Linked DNA regions of Homo sapiens: region 1 is linked to region 2. Evidence: fine-mapped expression QTL. A gene starts in region 2. The other region holds a variant in brackets. All regions are shown on one strand. Distances are between the middles of the regions. Region 1 overlaps LINC00944 (long intergenic non-protein coding RNA 944). Region 2 holds the start of LINC00944 (long intergenic non-protein coding RNA 944).

Region 1 (4,400 bases), 24 kb before region 2:
GTACACATCATGAGAAATATTGTTCAATCAATATCTTCCCTTAAATCAACTCATATGCTTATTTACATGAATTTACCTAAAACAGAAACTTGATATCACTTCTGTAAATGAAAAAATTAAACTTTCTGGCTTTAAATAAAGCATAACAATAATAATCATGTCAAAATTACCTCTCCAGTGTTATGAAGTTCAAGTTAGGGGTGAAGATTCCTGAAGGCCCTGGTCCTAGGTCATAGTTGTTCCTGATTAAAGGGGAGACGGACAAGTGTTCAAAAGGGTCAAAGACATAGTCCCCTCAATTGAGACTTCCTTCTGAAATTAATCAGAAAGTTTAAAAGAGAGTTCTTCCTCATTTTGTTAATTACTTTCACATATTAATATATATTAACATTTTATATGGTAATATGTTTTTGACATTCCCCTCTAAAATGTTCTCATGGGCTGGCAGTGGTTTCTTATATTATGGGAGCCCTACTCTTTACTGAATTTTGTCCTTCTGTCATAGGGTAAAACTTTTTCGTCTCTACAGAACTCTCTCCAAGTGCACACCCATAGATTGGTTTGCTTGTGGAATCCTAGCATATCAGAAATGAAGGAATCTCAGAAATTGTTTTCATCAAACACCTCATATGCAGAAGGCAAAATGAAGGTTCAGAGCAGAAATGATTTGTCCAAGGATGCAACACTCATCTGCAGCAGAGGGAAGCTGAGCTCTGCAGACCCACCTAGCACTGCAGAGGCAGCCCTCTAGGACAAGGCTTCATAAAAAAGTGACTTTATGAGTTGGCTCCATAAAAAAGATACAGATTAAGAAATTGTTTAAACAGTGATCTCTATATAATTACTCTTTTATTTAAAAGTATGGGCTGGGAGCGGTGGCTGACGCCTGTAATCCCAGCACTTTGGGAGGCCGATGTGAGCAGATAACCTGAGGTCGGGAGTTAGAGACCAGCCTGACCAACATGGAGAAACTCCGTCTCTACTAAAAATACAAAATTAGCAGGGTGTGGTGGTGCATGCCTGTAATCCCAGCTACTCGGGAGGCTGAGGCAGGAGAACTGCTTGAACCCAGGAGGCAGAGGTTGTGGTGAGCCGAGATCGCGCCATTGCACTCCAGCCTGGGCAACAAGAGCGAAACTCTGTCTCAAAATAAATAAATAAATAAGTATTCCTTTCCCAGTCTTTTGCTGTGTGGAGCCAAGATTTTTATTTGCAGAAGTCTGCAGGGCTGGTGTGATCTCTTTCAGTCATAAACCATAACCTTCCTAACGGGCCATCTGCAATATCCAGTTGTGTTTTCTCGAATGTGGGGAAATGACTTAAAGACACTTCAGAATCAATTGGAGGAAGGGACCGTTCCAGAGCTTAATTTTCCGTTGTGTTTTAGAGTTCTGTTGTCCACACCTAATTTGTCAGAAATGGTTTTAGTCATGTTGTTTTGTAGAATCTTTCCACAGCATTTATGCTCCTTTTCATAGAAGCGGCTCAATCTGCTCACGGATTTATATAGTATAGATTAAAGGAGGGCAGTGTAATAATGCCATAACAGAGGCTGGTACTAAGCTTAAAGCACCCCTGATGGGAGCAGAAATGCCCTGGCAGCTGGAGAGAGAGCCAGCACCTAGAGCGAGCGCCCCCTGCTGGCCATGGAGGGGAATGGAGGGTGTGGGATCCCCTGCAAGCAGGTTAAGTGGAGGTTGTTTCAAAAGCTTCTTCTCTAATCTTTCTGGATACTACAGATGATTTACATGAAACTCAGTGTGATGCTTTAATAGACCAATGAGATCAAGTTAACAAATAGATCCTAGAAATTATACTATTTTTAATGTTTGTGAAGTACCTGCTCAGCCAGGTGTTGATGGAGGACAGAGGATTAAGAGGAAGCCTTGAGTTACAGGGACCGAAGCAGCTGCTGTGTGGATTCAGATCTGGGCGATACCGCCCCAAGGCTCGTTCTTCCAGCATTTCTATCATTCTCTCTCTCTGTCTTATAGGCAAATGAGATGATGTTTCCGGGTCAATACATGACGGGATTAACTGGGATAGAGAAAC[G/A]TGGTTTTAGGATGTGAGTCTCCAAAATTTCTATGGTTCAAATGTGGGATCTCACATGATGGTCTTGGGCAAAGAGAATATCATTGATTCTCAAGATTTAAACACAGGAGAGCCTCTCACTCCTCCCAAAGCTACGAAGGGGATGGAGATGGCCCAGGGACATTCGAATCGGAACTCAAGATCAGTATTGGAGACCCCACCCTGTGACATAGACATCATGGACAAGTTCCTTGAATGTTGGAGCTTTATTTTCCTATTTGATAAAATGAGAATTATAGCTTCTGTGGAGGGCACGGGGGTGGTCTCTGAGGATCACAGGAGATAATGCACATCGAAATGCTTTGAAAAGCATCAAGTACTGAAAAATGTCCAGCTTAGCTATTAGTAACAGTGACTGTGTTGGGAGTCTGGGCTTTCTCCTGTCCAGCTAGAAACACTTTTATTGTGCTATTTTTAGTGTTACACCTGCACATGCTTGTTTGAGCAGGTATTAATGGTATAAAGATGCCAGGCTCAGGCCCACAGTGGGCCAGTTGTTCTATAATTTGTTCTATAATAGCATAACTTGACAACAGCTAAATGCCATAAAATGAATTGAGGATGGGGTGTGGGGGTGAAGACACTGCCTAACTCCTCCCCACTGTTGGGGAATGATATCCAGCCTGTCACCCACTGATGGCAGGTTATGTAGGAGAAGCAGATCTATTAAAATAGAAGCACAGCTGCATGCCATGATTACTTCTCTAAAGTTATTGTCTAGCTCTGCACTTGATCCTCCTCTGATAATACTCAAGAAATAGAACACCAAAGTTTGCTTGTTTTAAATTTGGTAATTAACGTCTGTTTTGCTTACACTAATGGTTTCTCGCGGGAAGGATGCGTGCATTATTAAATGTTGCTTAAGGAAAAGAAAACGTTTTGTGTTGGTTAACAATTTTTGACTACAAATAATAGAAAACGATACCAAAGCTGGCTTAAGTAAAAAAGTAATTTAATGCTTTCTATAAATAATAAGCCAGGGGTAGCATGGCCAATTTATCCAGTAGTCTCAATAGACACCATGCCTGAGGCCCACTGTACTATTAAAGGGTTCATGAAAATATTTTAATTTTAATTTATTTTAAAATTAGAAGAAAAATCACTATAACAATATTTTAATAGAGTAGGAATCCACAAAGCAAAAGCTTCTGAAGCACCCAAAGTCATAACATAGCCCTGAGGTGTAGGCCTGCCTTCAGCCTTCATTTGCTATCAAGAACACACCAAACTCCTTTGACTTCCCCCTGCTCTCTCTTCTTTTTTATGCCATGCTGTTGACATTCAAAAATAGGCTTTTCCTTTGCCTCCTACCATCATTTACTCTGTTCACCCCACTCTAGCTCCCTACTCTCCTATTTCCCCATACTCCAAGGCTGTGTCTGCAGCAGGATCTCTGCCCTGGGTCTTCTCTCTGTCTGAAGTACGTTTCTTTCAGGTAACTTTCTCATTTTACTTGCTCCAGGAGTATTCTTGGCTTCTCAGAGAGACTTTCTTTTATATGTAAAAAGGATAATGAGGCCAGGCATGGTGGCTCACACCTGTAATCCCAGCACTTTGGGAGGCTGAGACGGGAGGATCACTTGAGGTCAGGAGTTTGAGACCAGCCTCGCCAACACAGTGAAACCCCGTCTCTACAAAAAAAATATATAAAAAATTAGCCAGGCATGGTGGTGGGCACCTGCAGTCCCAGCTACTCAGGAGGCTGAGGCAGGAGAATTGCTTGAACCCGGGAAGCGGAGGTTGTGGTGAGCCAAGATCATGCCACTGTACTCCAGCCTGGTGACAGAGTGAGACTCGGTCTCAAAAAAAAAAAAAAAAAAAAAAAAAAAAAGATAATGGATGAATCAGTGAAAGACAGATGCACCAGCCCAGACTTCAAAACCTCTGGATGTCAGCTTCCACGCAAAAGGGTGAGAATCTCATCTGTAGATGACCCAAGGGAGTCTCCCCAGCGCTCCTTAGCTCTCCCCAGTCAGTGCTCCTTAGCTCTCCCTGGCTCTCCCTTAGCTCTCCACGCCCAAGCCTGAGCCAGTCACTGTGGAGAGAGGCAGGAACACACTGCTTGGCTTAGCTGTTATTGTCTAAGTTTCCTCTGTTAGCAGAGGTTGGGTTCCACACGGGCAGAACTGAGAGTCGGAGAGGGATGGTTCTTCAGCGGGAAAGAAGATACAGTTACCAGAAAGGCAATCAGAGTGAATTTACCTGCAGAGCAAAGATAATGCCTGTTTCTTAATTTCCCACTCTAGAATTTTCTTTTGATTAGTTTTGTGCATCTATATTGCTTCACATCTTGATTCTGGTAGTTGTTC
Region 2 (4,400 bases):
GTATGAGTTATATACAAAAACTGGCTTATATTCAATATGACATATTTTGGGGGGTGTTATCTGTTCCATCAAATAGAAGTAATTTGTATCTCTACCAGGACAAAAACAACCTTACTAAGTCTGGGATGCTTATTCAATAGTATCAATGATGAGTTCACTTCCTAGCTGATTTTGCACATGGCATTTGGCAGGAGGGTTCAGTTCTTCACTGGCTTTTGATAGGAGTATGCATTTGTTGTTGTTGTTGTTGTTGTTTGTTTTGTTTTGGCTACATGGGTTTGAGTGTCTTGCTGAAATACGGCCAGATTTTCCTAGAGTAAGTGATGAGAGAGAACAATGCCTTTTATTTTCATGACTTAGCCCAAAAGCCATATGTAGTAGTTTGTTTTCATACTGCTAATAAAGACATACCTGAGACCAGCTAATTTACAAAAGAGAGAAGTTTAATTGGACTTACATTTCCACATGGCTGGGGAAGCCTCACAATCATGGCAGAAGGCAAGGAGGAGCAAGTCACGTCTTACGTGCATGGCAGCAGGCAAAGAGAAAGAGAGCTTCTTCAGGGAAACTCCTCTTTATAAAACGGTCAGATCTCATGACACTTACTCACTATCAGGAGAACAGCATGGGAAAAATTTCCCCCCATGATTCAATTATCTCCCACTGCATCTCTCCCACAACACATGGGAATTCAAGATGAGATTTGGGTGGGAACACAGCCAAACCATATCACCATATATTATTACTTCTGTTTGTAAATTACTTCTGTGAGTAACTCATTTGGACTCTCACTCACTGAGAGGGGAAATAGACTTAACATGATAAGGGAGGGTTTGTTAAAGAAAAATTTGTGGACATATTTTAAAGGCACCTACCTAACAAACAACCTCAGAACCTCAGTGGTTTGAAACAATAAGGTTTATTTCTCACTCATGCTATAGGTTCTTCAGTGATCAGTAGAGAGGTTCTGTTCATTATGATCAGATGCACAGGACAAATGAAAACCACTGTATTGAATACTATAGATCACTCTGGAAGAAGGAAAACAAGCTTTGGAGAGTCTTCAGCCAGCAGTTAAAGACCCCCATCTAAATACCACATTATTAGAATAAATAACAAAAACCACATAACCATCTCAGTATACCCAGAAAAAGCATTTAACAAAATCCAACACCTTTTCATATACATTTTTAAAAAACCACTCAATAAATTGGAAATAGAAGGTAAAGGACATCTACAAAAAACTCCACAGCTGTCATTATAGTTAATAGTAAAAGACTGAGTTATTTTCTCTTAAGATCAGGAATAAGACATGAATGTCTACTCTTATAACTTCTATTCAAAATTTTCCTGAAATTATCCAAGATAATTAGGCCAGAAAAATAAATAAATAGCATCCAGTTTGGAAATAAAGAAGTAAGTCTATTTATATTCAAACATGATATGACCTTGTGTATGGAACATCTTAAGAAATCCACTTAAAACCTATTAAAACTAATAATTAGTTGGACAAAGTTTCAAGATACAAGATCAATATACAAAAATAAATTGAAATTCTATATGCTAAAAGTAAGCAATCCAAAAATGATTTTAAGAAAATATGTAATTATATTTATAATAGCACTCAGAAATAATATGATATTTAGGAATAAATTCTTAAAAGGAAGTGCAAAACCTATGCATGTAGCACTAGAAAACATTGTTGAAAAGAATTAAAGAAGATTTAAATAAATGGAAAAAAATTCATGTTTGTGGATTGGAAGACAATATTGTTCAGATGGCAGTACTCCTCAAATTGATCTATAGATTCAATGTGGTCCCTATCAAAATTCTGGCTGGATTTGTTGTATAAATTGAGAAGCCTATCATAAAATTCATATTGAAACACAGGGGACTTAGAACATCCAAAACAGTTGAGAAAAATAACACATTTAGAGGACTCACACTTTCCAATGTCAGACATTACCCGGGCACAATAATTAAAGAGTGTGGTATTGGTATAAAAAAATGACACACAGACCAGTGGAATAGACTTGAGAGCCGTAAAACGTACCGTTACATTTATAGTCAATTGATATTCAACAAAAATTCCAGACAGTTGAATGAGGAAAAAAATAGGAAAAATAGTCTTTTCCACAACTGCTGCTGACAAGTATGTTTTGGATCCCTTCCTTACACCACACACAAAAATTAACTCCAAATGATCCACAGACCTCAATTAAAGAGTTAAAATTGTAATACTCTTAGATGAAAGTATAGGATTAAATTTTTGTTGCCTGGGTTAGGCAAAGCTGTCTTAGAGACAACACTAAAAGTACAAACAACAAAATATTTTGTTACTACCTGTCTTCCTGATGTGCGTCTAGTCTAGGCTGTTTTTCTTGTTATTGTTACTGAGACGAGAAGTCTTCTTCCGACCGAAGGTTCTTCTCAATCGAAGGGTTCGTGGTCTCACGGCTTCAAGGAATGAAGCCGTGGACGGCAGTGGCGAGTGTTACAGCTCGATTAGAGAGTGTGCTGCGGCAAGATTTATTAAAGCGAAAGTGAAAGGAAAGCTTCCACGTGGGGGAAGGGGACCTGGAAGGGTTGCTGTTTCTGGCTTGGGTATCTTATGCTTACATCCCCTTATGACCCCTGCCCTCTTCCTTTTTCTGTCCTATAGAATCAGCTTATTTTCTATCTGCTTGTGGGTTGGCGGGCCTAGTTGGTTAAAAACATCAGGCTGAAGCTAGAGCTTAAACTCCCTATATGACTGGTTCAAGTTTCAACCACTTAGCTTGCAGCTATGAGTCAGTTTGTCTTAGGGGAAAGTCCCCTTTGATTGGTTGAAGTTTCCATCCCTTAGCTTTCAGCTATGACTCATTTTGGCTTAGGGGAAAGTCCCCTTAGGGAAGTCCCTATTGACCCAGGAAGTCCAGCCAACTTAGCCACTTAGTCCCTCATTACAACTCTTCCCATTTAACTGAATGAACCACTCCTTTTTAAAAAAATCACCACTTTTTTTTTTTTTTTTTCTTAGAGACGGAGTCTCGTTCTGTTGCCCAGGTTGGAATGCAATGGCGCGACCTTGGCTCATTGCAGCCTCCGCCTCCCGGGTTCGTGCCATTCTTCTGCCTCAGCCTCCTGAGTAGCTGGGATTACAGGCGCTGGCTAATGTTTGTATTTTTAGTAGAGATGGGGTTTCACCATATTGATCAGGCTGATCTCAACCTCCTGACCTCGTGATCCACCCGCCTCGGCCTCCCAAAGTGCTGGGATTACAGGTGTGGGATTACACCGCACCTGACCTAAAAATCACCACATATTTTAAAGCACTATTTGTCTCAGGGCATTGTGGGATTTCAGTGATGAACTGGATTTAGCTTTTAGGTTGAACAGGAAACGTCAATAGAATTTTCGGTTTTCATGTCAGTGCAGATCTCGCAAAATAAAAATAAATGTGGCATTGGCTCTAAGGGCAGGGCCCATACACTAGTCCAGGCTATTCTGTAAATGATTAACACATCTCCAGGAGGAGATTGCCGCCCCAGAAACACCAATTCTGCTAAATACTGAAAGCAAATCTCACACTTGGGTTCTTGAGATCCCATAGAGTGTGGCTTTGCCATTCTAATCTCCTGGGGAGAGGGGAGATGTGGCAGGAAGAGACCACTGCACAGAAGACTCCTAGGCTGATAAGAATGTGTGAAGATGACCTGCAGATGAATATGCAAAGGAGAGTGCATGGAGACCACCAGCAGAGGACTAAATTAGAAGAAACAATCTGGAAGGGTGCAGGCACTGGTTTGGCTGCCATTAGTCTGAAATCCATACAGGAATTCAGAGGGGAGACACATGTTGCTAGAGAGACCAATTCAGGGCTAGAGAGAGGCAGAAGTGAATCTTCAAAGACAAGAGCTAAATTTTCAGCTGTAAGGAAGGAAAGAGATATTATACCAAGGTGCCTTGATTCTGATGGTCATGGTAAGTCATTCATTCATTCATTCATTCATTCATTCATTCATTCATCTGTTCGTTCATGCAGATTGTGGTGGTGGCACACAGGAGTTTAGTTTCAGACATATTAATTTAAAGATGCATAGTAGATATCTAACTGGAGACAGGTATTGGTAGTTGGATGGAGGAATCTTGAAGTAGGAAGAAATATTCAGGCTGAAGATATGAACTCTGTGATTTTTATTCTTATGTTTTTAAACTATTAATATATACCTTTTTCTGAAATCAATGAATTTCCCCAAGCAACTCCAGACAGATGTCTGGGGCCTCATTTATTTATTGGTTTCATAAATCTGAGCCCTCTTTGATTTAGCGTTATACAGCCAGCCCATCCCGGGCCTGATCTTTGCCATCCTAATCATGAACTAAGCCCCTGCCATGTAATTGTGTGTCTACTCCTCTGC

The links. PIP is the estimated chance that this variant, and not a neighbour inherited with it, causes the effect.
Region 1: its variant is fine-mapped to the expression of LINC00944 in whole blood (TOPMed, PIP above 0.99).

The regions. Positions count from the first base shown.
Region 1 is chr12:126,746,091-126,750,490 of GRCh38, forward strand. LINC00944 (long intergenic non-protein coding RNA 944) reads right to left here. Exons shown (of 5, transcript NR_033878.1): 2 at 1,841-2,037; 3 at 171-242. It overlaps LINC00943 (long intergenic non-protein coding RNA 943), which reads left to right. Exons shown (of 4, transcript NR_038256.1): 4 at 1-166. Among named protein-coding and RNA genes, the nearest start is that of LINC00943, 11 kb to the left of the region's middle. The variant G/A (reference allele first, on the strand shown) is at 2,053.
Region 2 is chr12:126,769,736-126,774,135 of GRCh38, forward strand. It overlaps LINC00944 (long intergenic non-protein coding RNA 944), which reads right to left and starts at 2,527. Exons shown (of 5, transcript NR_033878.1): 1 at 2,344-2,527. RefSeq lists enhancers at 2,101-3,300, 2,776-2,855.